3 separate regions of the Homo sapiens genome follow, and all the other regions are linked to region 2. Evidence: fine-mapped expression QTL. A gene starts in region 2. Each other region holds a variant in brackets. All regions are shown on one strand. Distances are between the middles of the regions.

Region 1 (10,551 bases), 33 kb before region 2:
AATAAAGTGAAGAGACAATCCACAGGATGGGAGAAATATCTGCAAACCATATGTCTGACAAGGCGTTAATATCCAAAATATATAAAGAACTCAAACAACTCAATAGCGAAAAAAAAAAAAATTTAAAATGGGCAGAGGACCTGAACAGACATTTCTCAAAAGAAGACATACAATGGTCAATAGGTACATTTTTAAAAATATTCAGCAAAAGTAAACTTTAGGAAAATCCAAGTTAAAACCACAGTGAGATATCACCTCACACCTGTTAAAATGGCTTTTATCAAAAAGATGAAAGATAAGTGTTGGACATGACATGAAGGAAAGGGACCCCTTGTACCCTACTGGGAACGTAAACTAGTACAGCCATTATGGAAAACTGTATGGAGGGTCTTCAAAAACTAAAAATAAGACTACTATATGACCCATTAATCCCATTTCTGGATATATACCCAAAGCTACTGAAATCAGTATGTCAAAGGGATATCTGCACTCTCATGTTCATTGCAGCATTATTCACAACAGCCAAGATCGGCAAACAACCTAAGTGTCTATCAGTGAATGAATGGATACAGAAAATGTAGTATATATACACAATGCAATACTATTCAGCCTTTAAAAAGGGAGAAATCCTGTCATTTGCAAAAACATGGATGAATCTGAAGACATTATGTTAAGTAAAAAAGGCCAGGCACAGAAAGACAAACACTATATGATCCCACTTGTGTATGAACTCTAATAAAGTTTAACTCATAGAAAGATAGAGTAGAATAATGGTTACCAGAGGGTGGCGGGGAGAGGGGGTGAAGAGGGAGAGAAAGGGGAGTTGTTGATCAAACAGTCCAAAGTTTCAGACAGACAGGAGGAATAGGTTTTGAGATGTATTGCACATCAGGATGACCAATGTCAATAATAATGTATTATATATTTCAAAATAACTGAGAGAATAAATTTCAAATGTCTCACCATAAAAAATGATAAGCAAGGTGATAGATGTTAATTAACTTGATTTGATCATGCCACATTGCATACATATATTAAAACATCATATTATACCCCATAAATGTATACAACTATGATTTTTCAGCAAGAAAACAATAATAAAAAGTAAAAGTCGTTTACTTGGTTCCAAAAAAAGGGATCAGTATAAAGTTACTAATGATCAAATTCTTGGTTAAAATATAGCCTTAAAGTTCAAGCATTAGTCATTTATATACAATAGAAGCATAAGGAAATACTGCACACAAATTACAGAATGGTACAAAGTACCTGAGTCATATCATCAGTCTCTTGAACAAACCGGACACCAGTTCTTGATCTCATTCGTTTAATACCCTGTGGATCCCCATAGTCCTTGAGAGGTGAGGTAGGTGGAAAATGATGGAGCTCTTCACAAGTGAAAGAAAAGGGAAGGTATTAAAATACTGCATGAGAAGAGACAATCTAAAATTTTACTCAGTACAAACATGGCAGACATGGATATACATATATTCATGTCCCTAACCCAGACTATTTCCCAAGTATCTTGCTATGGCCATAAAGTTCCACCAAATTAGCATTAATCATGCTCTTAAAGCAGATAAAATGAACAACAGAAATAACCTGGAAATAGAACACTCAAAAGTTTCAATTTGTTATACTCTCCAAGAAGCAACATATTTTCTCATACAAAAATAATAAATTTCTAAATAAAAAACTCATATGACCCCTTAATATAACTTAATACTAAAAAAAACAACTTTTCAAACTACATAGTCTACAATCTGAACAGCATATAAAAATAAAAACTAACTACATGAAAAAATAGTGCCCAATTTTTAATCATTGTTACCATAATCAACAGTAATATTAACGATGTAAGGTACCAATGTTCAATTATCTAAATCACCTTCCTTCACTGCAGGCTTTTCGATTCAAACATGAATCTCAGTGCTATACAAAAGTGTAAGTAAGATTAATTAAGACAAACTGTCATAAGCTTTAAGCTAGCCATTCATATCTACCTGCATGCCAAGACTAAAATTCACCTGGTCTTAACAAGCATCACAGGGTATTTCATAAAACATGTGAAAATCTATTACGCTAGGACAGGATACCTAACCTAAAGTGTATCACATAGCGAATTTATGTATTTGTTTTGATTCTTTGGCAGCAGACAATTAAATCTAAGTTTTTGTCAGGTAAAGCTCTAATGTGGTCTACAGAGTTTGAGAAAAAAAAAAAAACAATATAACAACAAAGACCCTTCAATATATTTCAAAGCATGTACTATAAAATCCTTGACAACTACATGTACTATCATCCAATCTGCATGAAGTTATGTGTGGGTCATATTTCTCCAAAAATTAAATGTATTCAATATCTACTTCAAAAATATTTTTAATGTTTTTCAGAACATTTGAAGTGTTTACCTGACCCAGTGCCACCATCAAGGTCACTTGCACTCAAACTTGTAACAGAAATACTTCTCCCTCCTGAGTTTCTCAATAAACGTTGACTCCGGAGTTGGTCGATTGATTGTTCCAAGCTTTCTTTTAACTAATTTAAAGAATATAATGAATGAAGCGTTATTCTTCTTAAACAACTTCCAAATACAAATAGACCACAGATTTTCAAAGCTATTTCTGAAATATCTGGGTTCCCCCCAAAAAAAGGTATCAGAAAATTTTAAACTAAGTTATGTTTAAAATATAAAAATAGTAAATACAAATATTTTAAGAACCAATGCTAAAATCTGGTTTTAAAAGGCATCTGTCACTACCTATTCCATTTTTTATTGCCAGATGTGGAAGAGATGTCTACTGTGTAAGGGCTTACAAAACCAAATTGAAATGTCTAATTGGTGCACCACTCATGCGAAGAAACATAACAAGGTCAACACAACTGAAAGAAGACAGAAAGCTTTCCTCCCTTCTAAATATTCCTTCAGAAACTCCAGGTCTACAACAAATAGGAAACTAAACAGCTGTCACAGTGACAGCTGCTACTGAAACAATGTACACTGTCCAACTTTATCAGAGTACCTCTTTCAGTCATTCAAAGACTTCAAATCCCAGAAAATGATTGGGTCAGATATCAGACTGCCAGTACACACTAAGAACTACAGTTGTCCAAATGCTTTATTCAGTTTATTAAGGAGTCAGCCAACAGGGAACATATAAAAACATACCTTTAGACTTAAAGAGCTACATTAAATAAAAACATGCTAAATACTGAGAATAATGTCCAGAGCTGTACACAACTATAGGCCTGAGAAGAGGATTCGACTAAGACCCAAGGGAAAAAAAATTAAAGCTGAAGAAAATCCATACACCCTGAATTGCTGGGAAACTTCGGGTCTAGATATCTTATTCAAGGATGAATAGAAAGTAATAATTTTAAACATAATGCATGGATCCATGGAACAAGTCATCTATAACTCTTTAAGTAGAATGTCAAAACAAAATGATTAGTTGAGAAGACAAGGTTTCCTAAATTCAGCCAGCGTTAAAAGGTAGAACACCATTTACGGGGAGAACAAGTTGCTTTACTTGGTGAAATGAGCAGAAAGAAAGGAGCCTCAACCGAAGGAAAAGAACAGATGAAACAGAATGTGAGTCACAAATGAAGCAAACCCTTTTTCAGTCTGGCTATTTGGATTTGGCTGCTCTAATTGAAACAATCTGTATTAAAAGAAGTAGAGTTAGAATTTCAGGAAGCTGCTTCTTTTGTCCCTCTCATTTCCGAAAGAAAAAAAAAAGAGGGGTTTCCACACCCCTCTGTCTCCTCCTTACCTAAACTGGGATATGTACAATACCATCCTGCCTTGAGTATTCGCCAGCCAGCTATAAGATGCAGCATCGGCGGTTGCTCGCGCCTGTAATCCCTGCAGTTTGGGAGGCTGAGGCGGCTGGATCACTAGGTCAGGAGTTCAAGAATGGCCTGGCAAACATGGTGAAACCTCGTCTCTCCTAAAATACAAAAAATTAGCCGGGCATGATGGCTGGTGCCTGTAATCCCAACTACTCGGGAGGCTGAGGCAGGAGAACTGCTTGAACCTGGGAGGCAGAGGTTGCAGTCAGCTGAGATCGTACCACTGCACTCCAGCCTGGGCGGCAGAGCGAGACTCTGTTTCAAAAAAAAAAAAAAAAAAAAAACCTCAGCATCAATCCACAAAACATACTATGAGGCCCAGGAAAACCAAGGTTTACCTTGAGAGTAATTTACACATAAGTAAAATAACATATAAGTAGACCAGAGGTCTTATGTAGTGATCACAAAGTAGTATATCAGTAATCTATGACAAAATTATCAGAATAAAACTAAACAATATTAAAGCTAAAAAGCTCAAATTCAAACTGTAACATGAGAAACAGACTAGAAAAGTCACTACAGTGATTTTGATCATAAAAATTAGCGTCAGAAATAAAACGTAAAATCAGCTCTCTTAACTTTTGCTGTGTTTATTATTTCCATCTTTCAAGCTAAACTCAATTTCAGTATCCTTTTGAAAGCAGAGTCAGCTATCATTTCTTACTACTGCTTCTTTTTGAAGGTAATCTGCCTTTTCAGCTCTGGCTATTTTTAAGATTTTCTCTTTACTTTTGTCAGTGATTTTATTATGTATCATTATGTACAGTTTTATTTGTATTTATCCCATTTCCGACCCACAGAGATCACAAAATCCATAGCTTAATAAATTTCATATGTTGTAAATTCTCAGGCATCATCTTTTCAAACATTGTTTTTGCCTCATTCTCTCTCCCCTCTCCTTCTGGAAATGCAACTGCATTTTAGTTATACCTTTTTACCAAATGCTGTTATGTCTTCTTTTCTCTTCTATATTTTTTCAATCTTTCATTCTTCCATTCTTTTTGGATATCTTATGCTGGTTTATCTTTCAATTCATGAATTCTCTTTCAACTATACACAAGCTGTTGTTCACTCTATTCATTCAAGGTCAGTTGGTTATTTATTTATCTTATTTTTCAGTTTCTGAAATTTTCATTTGGTGCCTTTTAGTTTTCAATTATTTTCCAAAACTCTTAATCTACTCTTTTAATTTCTTGAACATGTTATTCATGGTTACCTTATAGTCCCATATATGTTTCTATTGTCTGCTTCTTCCCTTGGTTTTCAGACACCTTTTATATTCTCTTATGCCTGTGTATTCTTTATCATGTGATAGACATTTTACATGAGAAGTTGTAGAAATAATTTAAAGTTCTAGAGGATGACATCTTTCTTCAGAAAAATCTGGTTCTGCTTCTAATAGAAAGTCAGGTTAGGGTCACTAGCAATCTCAAATCACCTTAACCCAGTTAGGAACTGAAGTGGTTCAAGGACTGGCTTCTGTCACCGTGAAGGCTGGTCTATTTTCAGTTTATCACTTCTCATTTCCAATTCACCACTTTGCCTATACTATCACCCTTTGGGGTCTCCATTAAAGCTAAAGGGTTCCTGAACTCCAGCTTTGGTCTTCCTAGCCTCTTAAGTTAATTGATAACTCTGATCCTAGCCTCTCTGCTTTTAATCCACCTCTTTAGGAATCAGCTATCATCTTGAAGGAGGAAGAAAGTCCCAAATATAAGACTTACCCTTCTGGACTTAAGTTTTTTGCCAGATTCTGACTACATAATTCCTCACTGCCTTAGTAGTTCTTTGATGGATTCATAATATTATTTTTTACTTTTTTTTCATGTTTCTAGTTGTTCTCAGTAGAAGAGTTGATCTGAAATAATCTTACCTACCAATGCCAAAAGCAGATCTTGCCAGCATCCTTTTTATGTAGGCTTATTTGCTAACAAATCCTAAGCTGTAACTAAAAGCTCAGAAATAAAGTGAATTT[T/TCA]CACACACACACACACACACACACACACACACACGCAAACTCCCTGCCACCAAAAGAAAAAAAGTTACCATGGGACATAACAGAAGAACATTAAAGAACAAGAGAAGTGAAACACTTCCCCAAAATCTAATCTATCAACCCCATTTTAAAACTCTAAAAAGATATATCCGAAGCCATTGAAGATGAATAGGATGATTTTTAAGGTCCAAAAAATAAAATTACGTTATGTAAAGGGAGATGAATGAAATAAAGGCGATTTTAAATTACTCTTCCAAGCATTATGGCAAAAACAATTTTTGCACCTAAAACATAAAACTAAAAATGTAATAGAATTAAAATCTACACTTTAAGTAGTCACAACACAACACAACAGACACTGCACAAAATTTAGTGATGTATGGAGCCAATTTGATAACTCCTAAAACACAAAAACCAAGAAATAAAGAGACAAAGTACGAAGTCATAAAAATTGTTTTAAACTCTTTTGGATTATAACATCTTACTAGGTGTAACGCCAAACCAAACAAAATTAAATAAAAACAAAATAATATTAATAAAACTCAATCTAACATTTTCTATGATGGATGATGTTATTTTCCTAAAACTAATCAATCTTACCAAAGACTGTGGTACTAACTACAATGTTATAAATTCTTTTGAGTCTACTAGGACTACCTCACCAGATACCAAATGATGATCCTATTTTCCCCCACTTTCCCCTATATGAAATATTGTAAAATGGACATCATAGAACATAATATAATGTATATTAATATCTCACTTGATATAAATGCATGATTTAAAGATTAGGTCTATTCTTTTACCTCTGTTCTTTTGATATTAGACTGAAACAATGGAAACTACTGTGCACCAGTATAAATGCAAATAAAATTTGGGCACTGGAATTGAATGGCTATGATCTGGATCTGGGTCCTCACCGAATTCTCATGTTCAATTATAATTCCCAGTGTTGGAAGTGGAGCCTGGTGAGAGGTCACTGGATCATGGGGGCAGAGTTCTTATGAATGGTCTAGCACCATCCCCGCTTGGTACTGTATAGTGAGTGAGTTATCATGAGATCTGGTTGTTTAAAAGTGTGTAGCACCTCCCCACTCCTTCCCGTGCTCCTACTCCGGCCATGTGATGTGTGTGCTTCCCCTTTGCCTTCCACCATGATTGTACGTTTCCTGAGTCCTCCTAGAAGCTGAGCAGATACCAACATCATGCTTCCTATACAGCCTGTGGAACGGTGAGCCAATTAAACCTCTTTTCTTTATAAATTACCCAGTCTCAGGTAGTTCTTTATAGCAATGCAAGAATGGACTAACACAGGTAGTTTATCCAAATCATCAAGACATGCTTTTTCTGACTTAAGCATGTAGTAGGCTCCCTCTAGCCAAAGATAAAACAATTTGAGCATAAATAAAAATATTAACTGCAATGGACTAAAACACTTTAAATATGCATATAATTGTAAGTTAATAATGATACTCAAGGGGTAAAAAAAGTCATTGGTCACCACAAGAAGATGTAGGAAACCAATTATTTTGGAAACTGATATATAAATGAACTGAAAAATAACTGTAGATGCTTTTAGATTACCATGAAAATAAAATAACTAAATTTTAAAATTCTCACAGAGATCTCTGAAAGCCTTTTGATATCTCTATTTGGAAAAACTCTGATTAGAAACAAAATGTAACTCAAGGTTAATGAACTCAAAAAGAATGCATATAAAACGCAAAAGGATTGACTACACTCCAACCTAAATCTATGAAAGGAGATCATCTGGGCAACAATGGGTAATGCAAATAACAGAAGTGATCATTTAAAACATTATAATTCAGGCCGGGTATGGTAGCTCACGCCTATAATCCCAGCACTTTGGGAGGCCAAGGCGGAAGGATCACTTGGGCCCCGGAGTTCAAGACCAGCCTGGCCAACATGGTAAGATCCCATCCCTACTAAAAAAGTAAAAAATAAAAAGTAGCCAGGTGTAGTGGTACACAACTGTAGTCTCAGCTACTCAGGAGGCTGAGGTAGGAGAATTGCTTTAGCCCAGTAGTTCAAGGCTACAGTGAGCTGTGATTGTACCACTGCACTCCAGCCTGGATAACACAGTAAGACTCTGTCTCAAAATAAGTAAACAAATAAAATTTTAAAAATAGAAATATGTGATTCAGAAGGACCAAAGAAAAGCTTCATTTGCTTTCTTCAGCTGTACTACTTTTACTTCTGCCCCCGCTCTTTTCTGCATCTTTCACACCCCATCAGATAACTTTCTAACTTTCTTACATGTTTTATTTTGTGGATGAAATAAGATGATCTATGTAAAATAATTAGAACAATGCCTGAGGTAGATTTGGTCGTTCAGTAAATGATACTTTTTATCATTATGATTAAAGGCAATGACAATAAAAGTAAAAAATAAATAGAATGATGAAATAGAATGCTTTAATCTGGAGAAGCTATTTTAAAGAGTTTGTCATTCCCTAAACATGTATTTACAACTCAGATGGAAATACCTGTTGAATTTATTTACTTCCCACTTATAAAACCACTCCCGGGCAGGGCACGGTGGCTCGTGCCTGTAATCCCAGCACTTTGGGAGGCCAAGGCAGGCGGATCACAAGGTCAGGAGATCGAGACCATCCCGACCAACATGGTGAAACCCCATCTCTACTAAAAATAGAAAAATTAACTGGGCGTAGTGGCATGCGCCTGTTGTCCCAGCTATTCGGGAGGCTGAGGCAGGAGAATCGCTTAAACCTGGGAGGCGGAGGTTGCAGTGAGCTGAGATCGCGCCACTGCATTCCAATCTGGTGACAGAGCGAGACTCCACCTCAAAAAAAAAAAAAACTACTCCCTCAGAAAGTTTAGCATTATTCAACTCTAGGCTTACCACAGAGACTTGATGACAATGGATCCCTCGTTGAAAATTGCTTTCTTAACATTACAATATTTAGTGCTATGGAATATATCATACCTCAAATTGGGTATACATAATTTAATTTCCCAACTGCCCAATTCAAAGGAAATCTGCTACCCTAAGTAGGGATCTAATATTCAACTTTACAAAGTAGGACTATACTCTACTAATGGTTAATAATAATGTTTTCAATTTTTCACTAATAAATTAAAAAGCAAAGACTCAATTCCCATTATTAATAAGGTAATGAATCTGAAACATTTCATGAACTGCCCAAATATAACAAAGTCTATAGAGCTCCATTGGTCAAGTACATCATAAATCATAAAAATCCTGTAAATACAAGGATGTCCAAACTCATTTTCTAAATAAAAATAGTAGAAACCCTTATGAGAGAAGATATGTTTCCCTGTGCCCATTAGCTTGCAATTACAAGTGATTAATGACAACTATACCTTTACTTGTAAAAAAAAATAATAATAATAACAAGCCGTCAATTACAACTTGGGAGTTACGTGACAATTCAATACAACACAGATATGTATAAAACAGTCATTATTCCTTCATGTTTCCAATGATAGGTACATATACAATGTGATTTTAGTGTTTTCATCACACTGTATATATACCCCTCATTAGAAACATGAAGGAATAAGTTTAATTGGTTTTCCAAGAGTTTACAGGACAGGAGTAAGCAATTCCAAAGGAAAGAAAAGTAGAAGATAGAATTAGTAAGACATTAATTAAAAATACATTATTAACTTTATTCCAGAACTCTGGAGTACATTTTTTTCTTACATCCCCATGTAAAGTAAGTATAAACTGGAACATCCTTGAAAGGGCAATTTTGAAATATCCAGCAAATTTTTAAGTGCATATATCCTTTAACCCTGCAATTCTACTTCCAGCAATCCTACAGGATTACAAAAACATATGTATGTGTGTGTACAATAATGGTCACTGCTATAATGTTTATAATAAAAAGAAAAACTAGATACATTCATACTATGGAATACGGTATAACTGTTCAAAACAATGAAGTAGTGCTACACAAAGTTATATGGAAAGTGATATACATTATTAAATTTTAAAACGTTGTATAACATTATATTTAATATGATTCCATTTTTAAAGCAAATCGCACATATGCTTGTAAATACATAGAAAATGTTTGGAAACAAGCTCTCAAAATTGTTACCTCTTTTGAGTGGGGCTCAAAGGGAGGTTGGATAGAATTGGAGGCCATTATCCTAAGTGAAGTAACTAAGGAATGAAAAACCAAATACCACTTCTTCTCGCTTATAAAGGAGAGCTAAGCTATGTGTACATAAAGGTGTACAGAGTGGTATAATGGACATTGGAGACTCAGAAGGGACGCAAAGGTATACAGAGTGGTATAATGGACATTGGAGACTCAGAAGGGACGCAAAGGTATACAGAGTGGTATAATGGACAGTGGAGACTCAGAAGGGAGGAGGTTGGGAGCAGGGTAAAAGATGAAAACCTATCTATTGGGTACATTGTACACTATTTGGATGACAGGTGCACTAAAATCCCAGACTTCATCACTATACAATTCATCCATGAAACCAAAAAACCACTTGTTCCACTACAGCAATAGAAATTTTAAAAAATTAAAAAGGGGCTTTGAGAGAGGATTTTTTCATTTTTTGTTTTAACAATAAACACATATTACTTTAAAATAAACCATCCTTAAAATTCTTAACTCTACATGAGGGGTCTCTCCATGGCCCAAGTTTACCAAGTCTCCATTAAATTCATGTCTTGAATTCTACTC
Region 2 (10,551 bases):
TGCTCCAGCACTTCAGAGCAGGAGACAGAATCAAATGGACCAGTGCCTGGGAAGTACAGAATTAAAGCTCATCCATTCATTCATGAGCACATTCGTTCACAAGCACTTATTCATCCATTCATGAGCACCTGTTTCACAGCAAACCCTGTATGCAGAGTAGATTCTAAATGTTTATCAGGCCAGGCACAGTGGCTCAGGCCTGCAATCACAGCACTTTGACAGGCCAAAGTGGGAGGATCACTTGAACCTGGGAGGTCGAGGCTGCAGTGATCCAAGATGACACCACTGCACTCCAGCATGAGTTACAGAACAAGACTTCATCTCAAAAGAAAGAGAGAAAGAGAGGAAGGAAGGAAGACAGGGAAGGAGGGAAGGAGGGATGGGAAAATGTTTATCAGAATGAATTAAATGGATTCATGTAACCACAAATACTCCCATCTCCCAAATACCCCAAGCACTAGCATTATAGAAATTTCAGAGAGGTGTGCATATCCGATAAAGGCCTGACAAGTCTCTGAGTCATTCATAATTAGTGATAACAAGATACCAGAAACAAGCTTTAAAAACTAAAAGAAAAACTCACAAAAATATTTGCATTATATGGGAACCAAAGGGTTAATCAGCTCTTTCAAAAACACAAGAAAAAGAACAGTCCAGTTGTAAAAGACTCAAAAGATACATAAGCAGACAATTCACAGAAATCAAATGACCCTAACAAATGTTATTTGTTATTTCACTAAATAATTACAAATTAAAATAATAAAATGATATTCTTATCTATCTGTTTTATACAGATGAAAAAACCTCTCACTCGCAGGGTTAGCAAGGTTATACCTTGTTGTAAGAGTATTAACTATAAAAACTACATTAGCATGTATATCTACTATGTACCCACAAAAATTAAAAATTTAAAAAAAAAAAACCACATTAGCTTTTCTGGAGAACAACCTGGCAATACAAGTAAAAATAAATAATACGGGCCAGGCGCAGTGGCCCATGCCTGTAATCACAGTATTTTGGGAGGCCAAGGTAGGAGGATTGCTTGAGCCCAAGCGTTCGAGATGAGCCTGGGCAACACAGTGAGACCTTGTCTCTACAAAAAAATAAAACAAAATTAGCCAGGTGTGGTAGTGCACACCTGTAGTCCTAACTACTCGGGAGGCTGATGTGAGAGGATTTCTCAAACCTGGGAGGTAGAGGCTACAGTGAGCCAAGATAGCACCACTGCACTTCAGCCTGGGTGACAGAGTGAGACCCTGTCTCAATCAATCTGTAATATACATAGACGTTGACCCAGAAAATCTATTTCTATGACTATTAACCTAGGAAGATAAAATATTTATATATATTTTATGTATAGACATATGCATAAGAATTTCACTGTAGAAATTCTTCAGAAATTTTAATTCACTCATCCATTCATCCATGAGCACATTCATTCACTCCAGCCTGGGCAACAGAGTGAATGAATTTTTTTACAGTTGTAAAAGAATAAGAAAAAAATATAAATCCACTGGATAAGCATACAATAAATGTATCTAATCACTGGGATACTATGTATCTGCTAAAAGAGACAAGGTTGAATGGTAAGTGCTGACCTGTAACAATACATTTTACGAAAAAAGAAAAACATACTATACAATAGTATGAATGTATTGTAACTACTTTATATCAGAATCAACCCAGAGACATTACATGGATAGTGTATTCTATAATATACATGCTAATATAGTTTTTAATAACCTGGTAAATCTAGATTATTTTTATATTATTTCCAAAATTTCTGGACCAGATTATCCCAATAGGTCCCCCATCCAGCTCTAAAATTCTTTAATCCTAAGAATTTTTTTTTTTTTTGAGACAGCATCTTACTCTGTCACCCAGGCTGGCATGTAGTAGTGTGATCACAGCTCACTGCAGCCTCGACCTTCTGGGCTCAAGTGATCATTCCACCTCAGCCTCCCGAGTAGCAGGGACCAAAGGCACATGCCACCATGCCTGGCTAATTTTTTGATTTTTTTGTAGAGACGGGGTCTTGCTATGTTGCCCAAGGTGTTCTAAAACTCCTGGGCTCAAGCGATCCTCCTGCCTTGGCCTCCCAAAGTGTGGGATTACAGGCATGAGTCAATGCACCTGGCCTAATCCTATAAATTTTGTACACCACTGATCTTAATACACAGTGTTAGTATTTTTTTTTTTTTTTTTTTGAGACAGAGTCTTGCTCTGTCGCCCAGGCTGGAGTGCAGTGGCGCGATCTCTGCTCATTGCAAGCTCTGCCTCCTGGGTTCATGCCATTCTCCTGCCTCAGCCTCCCAAGTAGCTGGGACTACAGGCGCCTGCCACCACGCCTGGTAATTTTTTTGTATTTTTTAGTAGAGACAAGGTTTCACCATGTTAGCCAGGATGGTCTCGATCTCCCGACCTCGTGATCTGCCTGCCTCGGCCTCCTAAAGTACTGGGATTACAGGCGTGAGCCACCGCGCCCGGCCACACAGTATTAGTACTGCAAGTCCGCAGTGTGTCTCCCCTCTATGTTTCAGAGCCTTTTATCTATCGAGCACAATATGAAATCCAAAAAAAGGTCCAGAATTTTTACATCTATGTTGTAAATTTAAACTTTAAACATTACACCCTTAATTATCAATGATAATTCATGTTGAATTTATTTATGGAAATCACAAATTATAATGATCTCTTACCTCAATAATAATATAAGGACCACTATATTTTTTTTAAAAAACTAAGAAAGATAATAGAACTTTTTGAACATTGAAAGAGATGAATAACTGCACACTGTGCCATATATGGTCCACTTAATCCAAAAATGTTAAGTGTGAATCAAATTCTATTAGAGGGCACTTATAAACAGCAATGAAGCCCCTTGGCAGTGGGTGGGACTGAAATTTGGAGTCAGAAGACCTGGGAACAATGATCACTCTTTTGGCTCCAGAATCCCAAGCAAATTAAATAACCTGAGACTCAACTGTCTCCTTTGTAAAAGATAAGCATGGTAAAGGAATTATATAATGCCTGTAAAAGGTGTCTGACAGAATGCCTGAGACAAAGCAGGTTCTCAATTCCTTGCTTAATAGAAACAGGTACATCACTGTTGCTTTTGTTAAGGTTATAAAGGATATCTCAACTTATCTACTTTGTTCATCTGAATTTTTGCAACACTGCATACACAATCATTCGATATTTTATTTTTAAACCATATATTAGAAGGGGCTTCTTGCTCCCAAAACTCTATTTCTTGGCATAGTCTTTTCTACCATAAATATGCAAAAAATGTGTTATCTCAGAAACTCAGGGAGAAAGCATACTTACAAAGCACACCCCCAAAACTCCGAGTTGCTCTTCTCTGAGCTCAACGCTCTTTTTAGGCACATATGTCTGCCTCCTATCATTTCTTCATGAGGTTCAGGGCAAAGGGCCTAGTCAAGCCGATGATCTTTGGTTGCCCCTACACTTTCCCCAAACCACCTACAAATAAACAAAACAAGGGGGTAAGACATACCTACAACTTTAAACATTTTTAAATAATGAAATATGAAAATTAAGTCCCTATGTACAGACTATGGCATAACACAGAATAGAGAAAATGCTCCTAGAATGATTCAAAAGCCCAAGAGACCTCACTACAATTCTTCACATCCAAGTGCCCAGCCCACATATTGTCACTGGTGACTTCCATCCATGCCTGGGCATCCCTGGGGCTTGCCAGAGAGTTCATGCTCCAGTGTGAACCGCAGCCCAAGTCTAGCCAAAAAGTACTATGTATGAGCATGTCTAAAAGTTGGTAACTAAGTCAGGTAATACAGTTAACATGTTACTGCTGAATGTGGTGACCCAATTATACTTCCAAGCCAGTCTAACACTCCTAAAGGAAATATTTTATAAGATGCCCAGTTCTTCCCATACTCAGTGCTACAATTAAATAAATAAGAATAAAATGCCTTTGGTTGTAGAAAAGAGCTGTGGACAGAAATATTTTCAATTAATTGTGACTGCTTTCAAAGCAATCTGTAAGAATCCACAGGAAGTGATCCAGAGAACTGGGAGTTGTCTACATAAAAGGTAGATCTGGGAATACATCTATAAACCATTTCAAGAAAAAAAAAAGGTATTCTGAAAAAGTTAATCAAAATAAACTGTCAAGAAACAGTTCAAAGAGACCCAGGTTATGCAATGGCAGACAAGATACGCTGAGAGAACATAGGCACAGTGCACACTTCACTCTTCTAACAAAACAGCCACCATCACCCATGAAATGAGTCATAGGCACAACCAAATTTATGTGTGCCAATGTGAAACTGCCAAAGTTTTAACCTTATCTCTAGTGCTGTCCAGTACAGCAGTCACTAGACACATGGCTACTGAGCTCTAGCTCTTGCCAGGTCAAACTGACATGTGCTATACATGTAAAATACACAAGAGATTTTGATGACTTAAAATATTTTTTTTTTTAATGTACAGCCAGGCATGGTGGCGAGTGCCTGTAATCCCAGCTACTCCGGAGGCTGAGACAGGAGAATCGCTTGAACCCAAGAGGTGGAGGTTGCAGTGAGCCCAGACCGCGCCACTGCAGTCCAGCCTGGGCGACAGAGCCAGACTCCTCAAAAAAAAAAAAGTAAAAATCTCAATAAGTTTTATATTTACTCCATTGAAAACATTTTTCTATATTGCGCTAAATAAACTATTATTTAATTTCACCAGTTTCTTTTTACTTTTTTAATGTGGGTACTACAAAATTTAAATTCACCTGAGTGGCTCACACTGTATTTGTATTAGACAACACTAATCTGCATAATTAATAAAAAATAAACAACAAATGCTGAGCACTTGCAGGGTGCCAGGCACTGTGCTAGATACTTTACATAATACTCAAATCAATGCTGCAATTAATGGTAAAGTTTTACCAGACGCCTACATAACAGATTGGCTCCATCAAACCAATAAAAGATGCAGCTGGGATTCAATGTCAGGTATTTTTACGAAATAATTCAATTAAGGGACTGCTAACAGCTAAGGCTGGAGCAAATCCTATGATGGCACGGGAAAGAGAGGTCACTAATAAAGCGTTCCCGAGAGTAGCACGCTTTCTGTGACTACAAAACAGGTATTAAAAAAAAAATCAAATTTGCTTGCAGGACAGGCAAGCAAATGTCAGACGGTCCTCTGGAGGACCTACCGAATGAGTCCAATCTCCTGTCCCTTAAAGCTTCACAGATGCTAGCGGTAGAGCAAGCTGCTCCCAAAGGAAGGACAATGTAGTCCAGATTCGCTGGGTAACCTGGCCAGGACCTGACCGCGGACACCCCTGCCGAGGGAGGGAGGCCTCGGGATGACAGGCGCGCCGTCTCCCCTCACCTCTGCACACACTCCACCCATCCACGGCCCCACCCCAGATCCCGCGCCGCTCTGAGGTCCCCACCCCTGGGACGAGGGGAAGTGGGACTAAAACGTCTACAGTAAGACGGGGAAGTGGTCGAAAAAGGGCAAGGGGGAGGTGGGGGCAGGTACCTGAGACGGAGGATGATCCCAGCTCCTTAATGCCGGATCATCGCCTAGGCCCCACCCGGCTCCCGCGGCTACCAGTGACCCAGAAGGTGCAACTGACCAAACGCAGCGACTCAACCGACTGTGCTCTCCCCAGACTCGCAGCTATGGCAACTTGAACTAGCCGCCCAGCCACAGCAAGAGTACAGGACCCCGCTGCCGCCGCTTGGCCCTCTGGGAGTTGTAGTCCATCTCGGCCTCATGATCAAGGAATTACCAAGGGAGAGAGTCCCGAAAAGGAACTGCAAATCCCAGGATGCCATATAGCTGGCCTTCGGGTAACTTTCCCGGATAAAAGCCTGATCCCTTGGCCGCGCCCTCTTGCCCTGCTCTATTTTTTTTTTTTGTTAAAGGACCAGCCTCCTTTGTAGGAGGCAAACTCCAGTTAGAAAGTGAATAAAAATGCTTCCTTGGCCTTGACTGTAATTTTACTCCTTGGGGGACAAAAGGAGTCCCCCAGGACTACGGTAAGATGGGGAAGTAGAAAAAGGGCAAGGGAGCGGTGGGAGGACAGGGAAAGACAATTTCTAGCACTGAAATGTAAAAATCCCCTTAATACCAGGGTCCAGTATATTGTTCCAAAGACTCACAAATTCTTAGAAGCGGACGGGAACAGAGAAGATTATGTAGGCCAACCTGTTTGGCCTGGAAAGAGTAAGGGACTTGCCTAAGATCATATGGCTTATTCACGGCACACCAAAAGTAGATGTGAGGCTGTCAGCTCATTACTGCTGCTACTTCAGTCTAGGTGTCATCTCCTCACTCTAGAACATAAAAGAAATGTTTTCCACTCAGGGGAGTTGGTTTCAGTCACGAAGAGAATGAAAACCTCAATAAAAAACTGAACTTTGGAAAGCTAAAAAGTAACAATTAAATTAGTCATATGAATTGCCCTTCTTCTCTGCCAAAAAGACCACTTCCCCTTCCTTCTTTGAGGCTAAACTCAAATATTACCTGATCTGTGAAAGCTTTCCTGGCTACGTGAAGAAGAGCTAGATCATGTTTAATAACAAGGGTTCCTTAATCTAATAATTCTGTGCTCTATAATCCATTTCCCAGTTGGTCCCCTCTATTAGCCCTTCAAAGGGACCTAACCTTTTTTGTACATTTTTATCTTTCTTCTCACCCTTTCCTCACTTGCCCTTCTCCGTTCATATCCCTCTCTCTCTTTCTTTCTCTCTCTCCCCCTTTCTCTCCTTCCATCCCTCCTTACCCCTCCTCCCTCCCAACAGGCAGAGTCATAAATAATTAGCACATAAATTTGATATAGTCGTATTATTCAAATTTTTTTTCTGGCCAACACTGAGACATAAAACTATCTCATATTGGTTTGAACATAAAATAATTCTTCCAAAGACCTCCTATGCATTTGCAACTATCTTCAAGCTGCTTACTTGAAATTGTTCCTCAAGAATACACTCCACCAGACAGAGTTTAAGATAATTCAGAACAGCCATAAAATTGCCCCATATACATGCAGAAGCATAATAATAACTGTTTATTTGTAAACATTTTAACTTTCAAAACAATTCTATTCATTTATGTAATTCAGCAAATGTATGCTGTATATTTCTAGTATCCAGACATTGTTTTAGACACTGAAGTTGCAGTGAAAATAAACAACATAGACTTTGCTTTCAAATTGCTCAGAGCCATGTGAGAGAAAAAGACAATAAATGATTACAAATCTCTGTGTAATAGAATACTGCATAGGTTTGTATGGAAAGACATAAAAGAGAAACTTTCTGAAGAAGTGATAATCAGATCAACTGCAGGAGAAATGTCTACCAAAAGAGCTAATGTAATCACGAGCTACATTAATAAAAACTGATTGTCCACAGCTTTTCCTCCCTGGTTCAACCATATTTAGAGAATTGGATTCTATTCTATAGGCCTTATTTTTCAAAGTGATATTAACCAAATAAATCAAACATTACAGGACACAACTGGGACCAAAGGGTTAAAAATCAGATATTTTCGTTCATTTTGATCAAGAAATGCTTAAATATGTTACTAAATTCATAGCAGCTGTTTGTCAGCTTTGGTGTGCTCTCAGTCAACAGACGTGGCATCCCAAAAAAATGTAGTGAAGTCAGGCCAGGGGTGCTGACTCAAGCCTGTAATCCCAGCACTTTGGGAGGCTGAGGTGGGTGGATCACGTGAGGTCAGGAGTTCGAGACCAGCCTGGCCAACATGGCGAAACTCCATCTCTACTAAAAATACAAAAATTAACCAGGTGTGGTGGTGGGCACCTGTAATCCCAGCTATTCGGCAGGCTGAAGCAGGAGAATCATTTGAACCTGGGAGGTGGAGGTTGCAGTGAGCTGAGATGGTGCCACTGCACTCCAGCCTTGGTGACAGAGTAAGACTCCATCTCAAAAAAAAAAAAAAAAGTAGTGAAGTCACATCACTGAATCTTTGTTTTTTATGTCTTAACAAAATAGACAAAATGAGTTAAAGCCGACAAAATGAGTTAAACCAACAAAATAGATTTTACATGAAATTGTCTCATAACTCCCAAAGATATGTATTACTTTTAATCAATATGGCCAACACACATTATACAAACACAATACCATACTCAAGCAGAATCATCTGAGCTTAGATTTAGAAAAACCCACAAAGAGTATTGATATGGTCTGGCTCTGTGTCCTCACCCAAATCTCTTGAATTGTAATCCCCACATGTTGGGGGAGGAACCTTGTGAGGGGTGATTAGGTCATGGGGCAGTTCCCCCACGCTGTTCTCATGATAGTGAGTGAGTTCTCAGGAGATCTGATGGTTTTATAAGAGGATTTTGCCCACTTCTCTCTCCTGCCACCATGTGAAGAAGGATGTGTTTGCTACCCCTTCTGCCATGATTGTAAGTTTCCTGAGGCTTCCCCAGCCATGCAGAACTGTAAGTCAATCAAACCACTTTCCTTTGCCAGGTGCGGTGGCTCACGCCTGTAATCCCAGCACTTTGGGAGGCTGAGGCAGGCGGATCACGAGGTCAGGAGATCGAGACCATCCTGGCTAACATGGTGAAACTCCGTCTCTACTAAAAATACAAAAAATTAGCCAGGTGTGGCGGCGGGTGCCTGTAGTCCCAGCTACTTGGGAGGCTGAGGCAGGAGAACGGCGTAAACCCGGAAGGCAGAGCTTGCAGTGAGCCGAGATCGTGCCACTGCACTGCAGCCTGGGCGACAGAGTCAAGAGTCTGTCTCAAAAAAAAAAAAAAAAAAAAAAAAAAAAAAAAAAACAGAAAAAACAGAACAAAACAAAAAAAAAAAAAACCACTTTCCTTTATAAATCACCCAGTCACAGGTAGTTCTTCATAGCAGGGTGAAAACAAACCAGTACAAGTATCATTTGCAGTACCCTTCTTTTGCAAACCATGTATTACAGATAGGGGCACACAGAGGTTACATGATGTATTAGTTTACTAGGGATTTGATTAAATACCACAGAATGGGTGACTTAAACAACAAAAATTTATTTCCCACAATTCTGAAGGCTGCAAGTCCGAGATCAATGTGTCAGCAAGTTTAGGTTCTCCTAAGGTCTCTGTCTTTGGCTTGCAGAGATCCATCTTTTCTCTGTATCCTCAGATAGGCTTTTCCCTGTATGAGCACATACATGGTTTCTCTCTCTTCTTGTAACGACACCCGTTATCTTGAATTAGAACTTTATACTATAGCCTAATTTAAACTTAACTACCTCCTTAAAGGTCCCATTTTCAAAAACAGTAACATGGGGGGTTAAGATTTCAACATGTTTTCCCCAAAATTGTACCTATTCAGGATTAGTGTCATCAATGATCTCATTACGTAATACCTTGATTGAGGTAGATGCGGGAGATATTTTTGATATGCCTCACCCACATCACCCCTTAAACTGGGAATGATTCTACCCACTGTGTTGGGCCCCTATAGCCTTGTTTATGTTATACAAAGCCCCTACCTGTCTCACCATGGCTGATTAGACAAGGAGTAGAGAGACACCTGAGACAATTTGGGCCAATCAGGCTCTTTATCCTTTGAGAATTTAAAATGGGCACTCAAGCTCCCAATTGGTTGCTAGAATAGTCTTGATGTACGGGTAAGAGCTGAGGCCGCCATAGAGAGGTGACCATCTTCACCTGTGTTCAAGAAGCAGCTGACAATGCTAACCTGCACAGACAGAGAGAAGTGAGTAAAGCAGTGAAAGGAAATAAACTACACAACCACGAGGAAATGAGCCCAAGAGAATACAGCCCCCGTTCCTGACAACTTCCAAGTTCCTGGATCCAAGCCTTGTTATTCCCATTTGTATTTCCTGTACTTGTTTTCCACAATACACTAGTGGCAACTAGAGGTGGTTAAATGCACAGATTCTGGACCCAAACCACTTGGATTCAAGTCCGTTATAATGCCTATCAGCAATGTTACTTCAAACAAGTTACTTAATCATTCTGTGCCTTCATTTCTTCCTCTTCTAAATGTGGACAATAAAAATAGCACTTCATGTGTAGAGGTGTTTGGGGGATAAAATAAATTAATGTGTGTAAAGCACTAAGCCTAGTGTCTAATTCATGGTAAGCATTATTGAATGTAAGCTGACATTATATGTAGGCTGACAAATACTATGACATCCTAAAAATGTTAGTTCCATGAATATTGGTACTCTATTATTTTGTTCTAGACACTTAGAACAAAGAATTTATTAATACCTTGATGCCTCATGATGCATCATGATGATGCCTCATGATGCATCATGATGATGCCTCATGATGCATCATGATGATGCCTCATGATGATTTCCCTTTTGAAGCCTAAGATTAGTTCTGTTGATTGAAATCTAAAGAGCCTTGACTAAGATTATACTAATGAGATCACCAGCCTGTAAGATCCAAGATGCTAATTCTAGATCTAGTTTCCTGAGCAGTTTATCAGAAACACTTTTGAACCATACGAAACATTAAATACCTAGAGGAACTAATCAATAAAAAGGTTCTGGAATGGGGCTAGTCTA
Region 3 (10,551 bases), 280 kb after region 2:
CCGCCGCCGAGAGACAGGGTGAAGGGGGAGGGAGGGGCGGAAAGGGCGGGGGCAGAGGTGGGCGGGGCTGAGCGCGAGACACCGCGAGAGCCGCGTGCGCAGGCGCGCCGGGGCGGAGGCCGCCGGCGAGCCGCGTTGTCACGCGCCGTGGCGGGTACTGGACTGGCGGAGCCCGGGGAGTGAAGTAGTGAAATCGGACCTACGCCTCTCCAACGCTCGCGTGATCACGTGGTTGGCACCCAGGCGGAAGTCTGCGGCAGTTCTTTGCGGTGAAGAACTTGCAAAGCGTTGCTGGAAAAGACGGGAGTTCTACTGACACTCCAGTCCAAAGCTAGGTGGGACCGCCTCCTGTCGCACGTTTCCGCCTGGTCCCGCGCTTTAGGAGCTAGGAAATGTGACAGAGGCGGTGCCTACTGCCTCGCTAGGAATGGCCGCGGAGGAGGACTGGTCACGTGGCGTGGCTTCCGGCCTCTGGCGCGTTCCTATTCGGGAAGGTTTTAAATGCGGAGTCATCTCTTGATTTGTCAGCGAGGCTTTGACTGTGAGCTTCGCGGCGTTCGCGCCTCACCGCCTCACCGAGGGTGGGTCTTTCGCGCGCAGAATTGTGTAGGATTTTCCAAAGGGAGTAAAAGCCGATCGGGGCCTACTTTTAACATTCCACAATTAGTAACGTCTGATTCGTTTGTTTCCACAGTGGGTACGCTGCGAAGACTAGGCTTATGTTACCCAGAGGTTAGTCCTCTACTAGGCCACGTACTTTAAATAATTTATCACGCTAGTGGAAATGCGGGGTGGAAGAAAACCCCACCAGCCTTTGGATTGTAACAGCACAGTAACTTTCCCTGGTTTTTAAAAATATTGCCAAAATACTGCGACTCCATGTGGCCAACGTATAGTGACTGATCACTTTGAAATGCATGCCCTTGACCCACCAACTCGCATGGCCTCTCGCTATAAGAGAGCAAGCCGGCTGTGTTCCATGTTCAATTCAATAAGTGCAATTCAATAAGCTTTTGACTTGTTCTGCCCAAGCAAATCCTGCCTTTATATCGACCTTGCAAGCAGAACAGAGAATGCTGTTTGGAAGGCAGAATTCATAGTACCTAGTTTTCTTGTCCCTGGGAATTTTGAGGGACTTGAAATGTCGCGTGGATGAGTGAGGGAGTTTGTCTTCCAGAGACAAAGCAAAACGAAACGTCAAAGTTCTGTGCTGGTGAAACCAGATTTGAAGAATATCAAAGGCGTCTTACCAAAGAGGAAAAAAAATGCATCTTGCCAAGACTTGAAGAAAGGGATTAGAGAAACCAGAGGCCTTGAATACTCAGAAAATGGGAGATTGTGAATGGGTGTAGAGGATATCTATGAACCTTGACATTTCTTTTCACGCCAAGTCCATTCCCCTGTTAACAGTTGCTTCCCAGTTTCCTGCACAGCTGCATGGTCTGGGACACTTAAAGAAAAAAATCACAGGAAATCAGTGTTCTTGGTATATTATATAAAGTTATGATTCTATCAACATTTGTAATTCATTTAATATTCAGGTGACAGCCCGAAAATTTACACTAAACAATACCATTCCTGTTAAGTTTTACTACATATTGAGAGGACTTCTTGTTACCTCCCTATTACATACTCCCAAACGCTTTGCACATGGAATCCCTCACCTTCCACCTAGTTTTCCCCCCTACTATTGATATTCTTGACTAAAAGGTTGAGTAGTTTCGCCATCAATTAAAGTTAAAACCACTGCAGACAGGACAGGGAAGAAAAGCTACGAGGTTTGCTCTTCACAGAATTAATCTGTGAAATAATGGATTGTAGTTACTGGATTAAAATGGCAGAAAACCTAGTCTTGGCCTCCTTAAGACCATCAGACTCCCTGGAGGCTCTGAGTTGGCTTCTCTCTTTACACCTAGATTGCAACAAGACCTAAGCACTTGGTTAATATTTACCCAGGAACTTAGATTGCTTGTGTGTCTGGCATCTAGCCATCATGGATTCCATTCCAATATATTGGTTTTCCAGTCCCTCAATAGCTGTTATATGCCTTCATTGCAACATATGTGTGCCATCCAGTTTAGTTTCGGAAAGAAATATTTTCTGTTATACCAAAATTGTAGGACTGAATACTTGGAAGCTGCAGCCCTTTAATTCACAAAACAAAATTTGTGAGAGAAAACTTCTCCCAAGTAAGATTACATTTAGCATCATATTTAAATTGTTTCTATCTGAACTTTTTATTCTTGGTCTCCTACAGCTTGAATGACGTTTCTAACTTTAACAGCTCTTTCTACTATATAAAACATTTATACAGGATTTGCTGTTTGTGATCTTACACTTTGTAGCAGCTATGTACTTAGATAGATACATAATAGTACTCTCCTTGTGATGAATGTTTATGTGTTTTTTTTAACTTCAAAATGATTTATACTGGGAGTTAAAATGTTGCGTCTTTCTTTTAATATGCAGCCTAAACACTAGATAACTGTAAAACAAGAGAAGAAAAGGGAAAAAAAATCGATGTATAAATTTTGCTACACCATCAACAAAATGACAGCAAACCTTCTGTGTCCAAACATTTAAATATTTTACTGTCCAAATGACTATTTTAGCAACAATGCCAAGAAAGAGAAGAGTCTAAAAAGATTGTGGAAATTGGCTTAAACTAAAATCTTGTGACTTCCCAGCAAACTCCATTTTCTTAAATAGTGAAGAAAGAAAAAAAACAAAACTAGTTTTGAGGCATATTTAGGCCCTAGTGCTCAGTATGTATTGGGCACTTTGTATGTATGTATGTATGTATGCTCAGTATGTATTGGGCACTTTGTATGTATGTATGCTCAGTGTGTATTGGGCACTTTGTATGTATGTATGTATGTATGCTCAGTATGTATTGGGCACTTTGGGAGGATACAGAATTGAAGAAGAAAGATGCCTTGAGCTTACTAATCATTTTTTTTCTTTCCTTCTTTTTTTTTTTTTTTTTTTTTGAGACAGACTCTTGCTCTGTCATCCAGACTGGCATGCAGTGGTGCGATCTCGGCTTACCGCAGCCTCTGCCTCGTGGGTTCAAGCTATTCTCCTGCCTCAGCTTTCCAAGTAGCTGGGATTACAGACTCACACCACCACGCCCAGCTAATTTTTGTAATTTTGGTAGAGACGGGGTTTCACCATTGTTGGCCAGGCTGGTTTCAAACTCCTGACCTCAGATGATCCACCTGCCTCGGCCTCCCAAAGTGCTGGGATTACAGGCGTAAGCCGCCGTGCCAAGCAAGTTTACCAATCTTAATGAAAGTCCCTGTTTTAAAGTGTAGTGCATAGTCATAGCATTCATTTAAGCTGTTGAAAGCATACATATTTCAGTCCTACCAAAAAAAATTATACTGCATTCAGATTTCACCTATGTTTTTGTCATTTTCAAAGAAACTGCCGATTTTCACATGCACAAATTTTTGATGGTGGCTATAAGAAATTGCTGACCATACAAATTAGTTCTATACATGTGATGAAGAGATTTTTTAAAATCTTTTTAAATTATCTTTGTCTGTTGTAACTTAGTTTGAAATTGCTACTTCATGTCTTAAAACACCAACCAGCTCTAAGTTATTTTCTGTAGAACAAAGTGTAGACCAGTTTGTAGTTTTTAGCAAAAGTAAATTAACTTAGTGTGGAGTTTTGGTGGAATCAGGTTTGACTCTTGCCACTAAATTCCTGTGTGACATTGTGCCATGATTCTGTGTCAATAAGGTGAAATAATCACCACCACCTATCGTTGTTGGAAAATCAAAGGTAGTAGGAAGTGCTTTGACAAGTATTTGGTGGGTGTTTTATTATTAATGGTAACTGTAACAGCTACACCAATATCATCAAAGCTGGGGAAAGATGTTCTTAAATCACTTTGTAGAACACTACCATTACATTTTAATCATGATGGCTGCATGTTGTGGTTCATGCCTGTAATCCTAGCACTTTGGGAGGCTGAGACAGGCAGATCACTTGAGGCCAGGAGTTCAAGACCAGCCTGGCCAACATGGCGAAACCCTGTGTCTACTAAAACTGCTAAAAATTAGCCAGGTATGGTGGCATGTGCCTGTAATCCCAGCTACTTGGGAGGCTGAGGCATGAGAGGCAAAGGTTGCAGTGAGCCAAGATCGTGCCTGGGCACCAGAGCTGGAGACACACTCTGTCTCAAAAAAACAACAACAGCTGGGAGTGGTGGCTCAGGTCTGTAATCCCAGCACTTTGGGAGGCTGAGGTGGGTGGATCACTTGAGGTCAGAAGTTTGAGACCAGCCTGGCCAGCATGGTGAAAACCCATCTCTACTAAAAATACAAAAATTAGCTGGGTATGCTGGTGCCTACTTGTAATCCCAACTACTCAGGAGGCTGAGGCACGAGAATCACTTGAACCCAGAGGCTGCAGTGAGCCAAGATTGCACCACTGTACTCCAGCCTGGGTGACAGAGCGAGACCCTGTCTCAAAAAAAAAATTTTTTTTTAAATAATGATGTCAGTGGCCAATGCTTACTTTACAAGAAACTCAGCCAAATTTTGATAACTCAAGTGGTGAATATCTAACAGCATCCCAGCCTCACAATGCATTTTAAAACTTGTTTTTTCTTTCTTGCTTGCCTTCAGCCTTGAAACATACTTTGAAACTGTTTGTCCCTTTCCCACCAGCCTTTTCTGAGAACAGGGCTCACTTATCTTAATGATGTGCTTGCTTAAAAATTCCAGGGGCCAATTTTGAAACAAACTAGACAGAGAGACCCCAACTGCAGAATCCTCCTGCTCAAGGGGGATTAGGAACCATTAGCCCAGCACTACCAGCTGAGGTCAGGATGACATGAACTGGGCCTTCAGGCAGGCAGTTACTGAAGATGACCGTCAGAAGAAGACACACAGACCTA[C/T]ACCTTCCTGCGCTACTCCTGCATATTTCCCACACCTTTTTGCTTCTTAAACCCCTTCACTCACTCCAAAAAGTTGGAGTGATCTGTTAAAGGCATGAGCCTGTCCATCCCCCAACTGCTAACATTGGAATAAAGTTGCTTTCCTTTCACTACACGTCGCTTCTCATGCTTTCAGCCTCTGAGCAATGAGCAGTCAGACTTGAGCTGGTTATAAGTACGGAGCATATATATATATATATATATTTTTTTTTTTTTTTTTTTTTTTTGGAGATTGAGTCTCACTCTGTTTCCTAGGCTAGAGTGCAGTGGCTCGATCTTGGCTCACTGAAACCTCTGCCCCAACAGGTTCAAGCAGTTCTCCTGCGTCAGCCTCCCAAGTAGCTGGGATTACAGGCGCCTGCCACCGTGCCCTGCTAATTTTTGTATTTTTGGTAGAGACAGGGTTTCACCATCTTGGCCAGGCTGGTCTTGAACTCCTGACCTTGTGATCCACCCGCCTTGGCCTCCCAAAGTGCTGGGATTACAGGTGTGAGCCACCGCGCCCAGCCCACAGCATAATTTTTGTATGTTAATATAATGAGATGATTCCTTAAGCTGAAAGCTGATTTATTGATTAAATATATCAGATTGCTTAGTTACACATGTGCCCAACTATATGTAGTAAAAGTTATGTATGAATTTGCCCATTGACCTAGCAATGCCAAATCTAGGACTCTGTCCCACAGATACTGTAGCAAAAATAAGAAAAGATGTATGCCTCAGACTATTTGTTGTAGGACTGCATTAACACCCATCCTACCATATAAACTATATTTACTTTATATAAAAAGTAAATATTTTATATAAGAAGATTATATAATACGTCCATGTCCCACATGTCCATATAAGGAGGTTGGTTGAATAAACTATAGTACATGCACACAGGTGAGGACTATGCAGCTGGAAGAAGAAATAAGGAATATATATATATATATATATATATATATGCCCACTATGGATTGATCTTTGGAATATAATGCTGAATGAAAAAAGCAAGATGTGGAAAAGTATTCTTTGCCTCCATTTAAGAAAAGAGAAAATACAAAAATGTGTGTAATATACTTGCTTACTATTTTTTTTTTAAAGGAAATATGGCCAGACACGGTGGCTCACACCTGTAATCCTAGAACTTTGGGAGGCTGAGGAGGGCAGATCACCTGAGGTCAGAAGTTCAAGACCAGCCTGGTCAACATGGCAAAACCCTGTCTCTACTAAAAATACAAAAATTAACTGGGCACAATGGCGGGCATCTGAAATCCCAGCTACTCGGGAGGCTGAGGCAGGAGAATCATTTGAACCAGGGAGGTGGAAGTTACAGTGATCTGAGATCACACCACTGCACTCCAGCCTGGGTGACAGAGCATGACTCCCTCTCAAAAAAAAAAAAAGGAAATATAAACCATATGTATGTATCTTTAAAGGTTACCTATAAGGACTGGGAGAGAAGAGTATGGAGAAGACAGAAAAAAAAGCGTTATTTAAATGTACTTTGTTTTTTAGATTTGACTGAAAACACACATTTTACTTAGTTTTTTAAAAATCAACTTTTGAAAAGCAATTCCCCAAACTAAAAATTAAGTTACTTAACCTAACCGGATATTACATAACACACAAAGAACTTTTTCAAGTGACTTTCAAACACAATAATTTGACTAGATATCCATAGTGGGATATTTTTAAGGAGAAAAAGAAATGTCCAAAAACATTTAAGTGTTTGCATTTGTATTGTTGGTGATAATGTTTGGAAATGTATTTTGATAATTTTATGTGAAATGTGGATTAAAGAATACGAGTAATTATATTATGTTCTAATTATCTAATCCCAATTGTTCTTGAGAACCAGGCTCTCAATAGATTGGATAAGGCCTACCTGCATTATTGAGGGCAATCTTATTTACTCATTCACAATGCTAATCTCTTATCATATGGGAGAAAGACGATGCAGATGTAAGGTACAGGAGGATAAGTACAAATTCTGTAGTCCTGAATTTGAATTAGAAGTATCATGGTGAATTTTGTCAAAATTCCCTGCTGGCTCTGAAGAGGCCTAGAAACAATTACCAACACAGTAGTAATGAGTATATTTGGTACCTAAATTATAAGATTTCAAGACCAGTGCTCTGTGGAGAAATGTCTGATTCTGATTCCAAGTCAAGAGCAGGAAATGTCTTTTCTTAACAACAAAAAAAACCCAAACTCAATGTTTCATCTTATAAAATATATTTGTCCCCATAAAAGCTAAAACAAACCATGACCAGTCCAGTGCTCCAGAATTTGGGAGCACCTCTTGCTCCCAGATCATTATCTTGAAATACTATTTTCCAAGGAATAATGGCTCTTCAGAGATATTACTGACTCTAGGACTGGGATTAAAAAAATGTTTAAACCAAATGAAATTACCAATTATTGCCCAAAATAAGACAAAGTGACTCTAGAATATCTTTTCATGTGGATAACAAGTAAGGTGTATTTGTTTCCCAGGGCTGTTGTATCAAAGTGCCACAAACTAGGTAGCTTAAAACAACAAGAATTTGGCCGGGCACGGTGGCTAACACCTGTAATCCCAGCACTTTGGGAGGTCGAGGCAAGTGGATCACGAGGTCAGGAGATCGAGACCATCCTGGCTAATACGGTGAAACCCCGTCTGTACTGAAAATACAAAAAAATAGCTGGCCGTGGTGGCAGAGGCCTGTAGTCCCAGCTGCTCGGGAGGCTGAGGCAGGAGAATGGCGTGAACCCGGGAGGCAGAGCTTGCAGTGAGCCGAGATGCACCACTGCACTCCAGCCTGGGCGACAGAGTGAGATTCTGTCTCAAAAAACAAACAAACAAAAAACAACAAAAACAAACAAAAAAACAAGAATTTATTGTCTGACAGTTTTGGAAGCTAGCAGTTTAAAACCAAGGTGTCGGGCGGGGGGGCGCGGTGGCTCATGCCTGTAATCCCAGCACTTTGGGAGGCTGAGGCAGGCGGATCACGAGGTCAGGAGATCGAGACCATCCTGGCTAGCACAGTGAAACCCTGTCTCTATTAAAAAAAAATACAAAAAAAATAGCCAGGCGTGGTGGCACATGCCTGTAGTCCCAGCTACTCGGGAGGCTGAGGCAGGAGAATGGCATGAACCCAGGAGGTGGAGGTTACAGTGAGCCAAGATCACGCCACTGCACTCCAGCCTGGGCGACAGAGTGAGACTCCGTCTCAAAAAACAAAAACAAAAACAAAAAAACCAAGGTGTCAGTAGGTCCATGCTTTCCCTAACACTGGGTAGAATCCTTATGTGATAGTTAATGTTATGTATTAACTTGACTGAGCTAAGGGATGCCTAGATAGCTGGTGAAAACATTACTTCTGGGTGTGTCTGTGAGGGTGTTACTGGATAATATTAGCAATTAAATCAGTAGACTGAGTAAAGAAGATTGCCCTCACCAGTGTAGGCAGGCATCATCCAGTCTGCTGAGGGCATGAATAGAACCACACATTGAAAGAGTGAATTCATTCTCTCTGTTTGAGCTGAAACAGCCATCTTTTTCTATTCTTGGACATCAGCTCTTCTTGTTCTCAGGCCTTTACATATGGACTAAATTTCAGTAGTCCCCCCTTATACATGGTTTTGCTTTCTGAAGTTTCAGCTATCTGCAGTCAACAGAGGTCCAAAAATATTACATCATCACTCTTGCGCTTTGGAGCCATTATTAAGTAAAATAAGGATTACTTAAATACAAGTATTGTGATACTGGGCCAGTTGATCTGATAACCTGTACGGCTAAGTGACTAATTGTAATTGGGTTGGACAGAGCAGGACAGTGTGAGAGTTTATCATGATATTCAGAACAGCATGTAATTTAAAACTTACGAATTGCTTATTTCTGGTAATTTCATTTATATCACAATGTCCGTGTCATTCATGATATTCAGAACAGTGTGTAATTTAAAATGTATGAATTATTTCTGGAAATTTCATCAGAAATTTTATAATCTCACATCATAACATGAAGAAGATAGGTGAGTGTATAGTACGCTATGATAATTTGAGAACGTTAGAGCAAGTAAGAGACAGCACATAACTTTTATTATGGTATATTGTTATCATTGTTCTGTTTTATGTTATTGTGGTTAATCTCTTGCTGTGCCTAATTTATAAATTAAGCTTTATAATATGTATATACAGGAAAAAATAGCGTATATAGGGTTTGGTACTCTGTAGTTTCAGGCAGCCACTGGGGGTCTTGGAAAACCCATAGGTAAGTGGGGACTACTATACACTATTGGCTTTTCTGGTTCTCTGGATGTAAAAGGCAGATCATGGGACTTCTTGGCCTCCATCATCATGTGAGCCAATTCCCAATGTGTGTGTGGGTGTGTGTATGTGTGCATGTGTGTGTGTGTGTTTGTGTGTGTAATCTCCAGTGGTTCTCTTTCCCTGGAGAACTCTGACCAATAAAATATTTTGGTACTGAGAGTGGTTCTAGAGGAACAGAAAGTACTGATAGTCCAGGGAGTGAACTGTTTCTAGAGATATATAAAATATCTGCATTGGATACTCCTAACTAATAAGAAGCAAAGAGCTAAGTAACTCTGTATATGATACTTTTGAACATTTTTGGACAATGGAAAATAAGGAATATAATGACATTGGTTTGTTGCTTCTAATGTAGGACCAAGTGGTAAAAGAAAAGGAGGGGCTCAGGATTCAAATTTCCAGCTCACTCACTGTATAAATGACTTAAAAACTTGTAGTTGTGCCCTAAGAAATCATTAACTCCTGTAGCCACAGGGCTAAAATTGCTGAAAATCAAACCCAGGATCTCATTGTGCAATTGGCTGAATTACAAAGCAAGTTGAACTCCCAGCCTCACGTGATATCTACTGTTAAAGTGATGGCATTGGTTGAGAAAAAGTGGGATCCTGTAAGATGGGATGGGGATATGTAGGAAGAGCCTGATGAAGCTACAGACATTGAGACCCTAAATTCTGATGCATCTTCTTTGCCAGTGGAAGAGGTTTCTCCATCCCCAGCAAAAGTAACCTTCCCAATCCCAGTGAAAGTGGCCTCCCCACCCTAAATGGCATAGGTCTCCCCACCTCTGGTGGTAGCAGCCTTCCCACCCACAGTGGTTTCCGTATTTCTACCTCAGTCTGAGGTATTTAACCCTGAGGAAGCAGTAATGGCTTCCTCTGAGGCAGTTGCTATGCAAGACAGTGCTGGTTCTTCTCAGGATCTAATCTACCCCTGCCATCCCTGAAGGGCCTACTTTGAGTTAAAAAGTGTGACCCATGAGAAGGTGCACTACATTCCAAAAGAACTACTTGAGTTTTCTGATTTATATAAGGAGAAATCTGGGGAACATATATGGGAATGAATATTAAGAGTGTAGGAGAATAGTAGAAGAAACAAAGTTGAATCAGGCTGAATGTATAGATATGGGCTCACTAAGTTGAGATTCTGCATTTAATATTACAGAAATATTACATTATTTCTAAATCAGAGAGTTAGAAAGGGCTCTAACAGTTTGGTTGGTTGCTGAAACATGGGTCAAAAAGTGGCCCACCAAGAGTGAGTTGGAGATGACTGATGTCTCTTAATTTAATATAGAGGAATGGATT

Direction of the effects. Alleles are on the strand shown, and positions count from the first base shown. SD is a standard deviation of normalised expression in the study named. Not every link is listed here.
As copies of T replace C in region 3, the expression in aorta of the gene that starts at base 5,681 in region 2 goes down (moderate effect, 0.48 SD a copy in GTEx).

What was found. PIP is the estimated chance that this variant, and not a neighbour inherited with it, causes the effect. A credible set is the group of variants that fine-mapping cannot tell apart.
Region 1: its variant is the best candidate, but not a certain one, in a credible set for the expression of CEP128 in monocytes (Quach 2016, PIP 0.78).
Region 3: its variant is the best candidate, but not a certain one, in a credible set for the expression of CEP128 in aorta (GTEx, PIP 0.64).

The regions. Positions count from the first base shown.
Region 1 is chr14:80,903,547-80,914,097 of GRCh38, forward strand. It overlaps CEP128 (centrosomal protein 128), which reads right to left. Exons shown (of 25, transcript NM_152446.5): 5 at 2,409-2,535; 6 at 1,267-1,385. Among named protein-coding and RNA genes, the nearest start is that of CEP128, 33 kb to the right of the region's middle. The variant T/TCA (reference allele first, on the strand shown) is at 5,825.
Region 2 is chr14:80,936,058-80,946,608 of GRCh38, forward strand. It overlaps CEP128 (centrosomal protein 128), which reads right to left and starts at 5,681. Exons shown (of 25, transcript NM_152446.5): 1 at 5,524-5,681; 2 at 3,328-3,483. RefSeq lists enhancers at 5,516-5,595, 5,896-5,975.
Region 3 is chr14:81,220,945-81,231,495 of GRCh38, forward strand. GTF2A1-AS1 (GTF2A1 antisense RNA 1) reads left to right here and starts at 274. Exons shown (of 2, transcript NR_135252.1): 1 at 274-581; 2 at 695-2,436. GTF2A1 (general transcription factor IIA subunit 1) reads right to left here and starts at 15. Exons shown (of 9, transcript NM_015859.4): 1 at 1-15. RefSeq lists a silencer at 1-179. The variant C/T (reference allele first, on the strand shown) is at 4,910.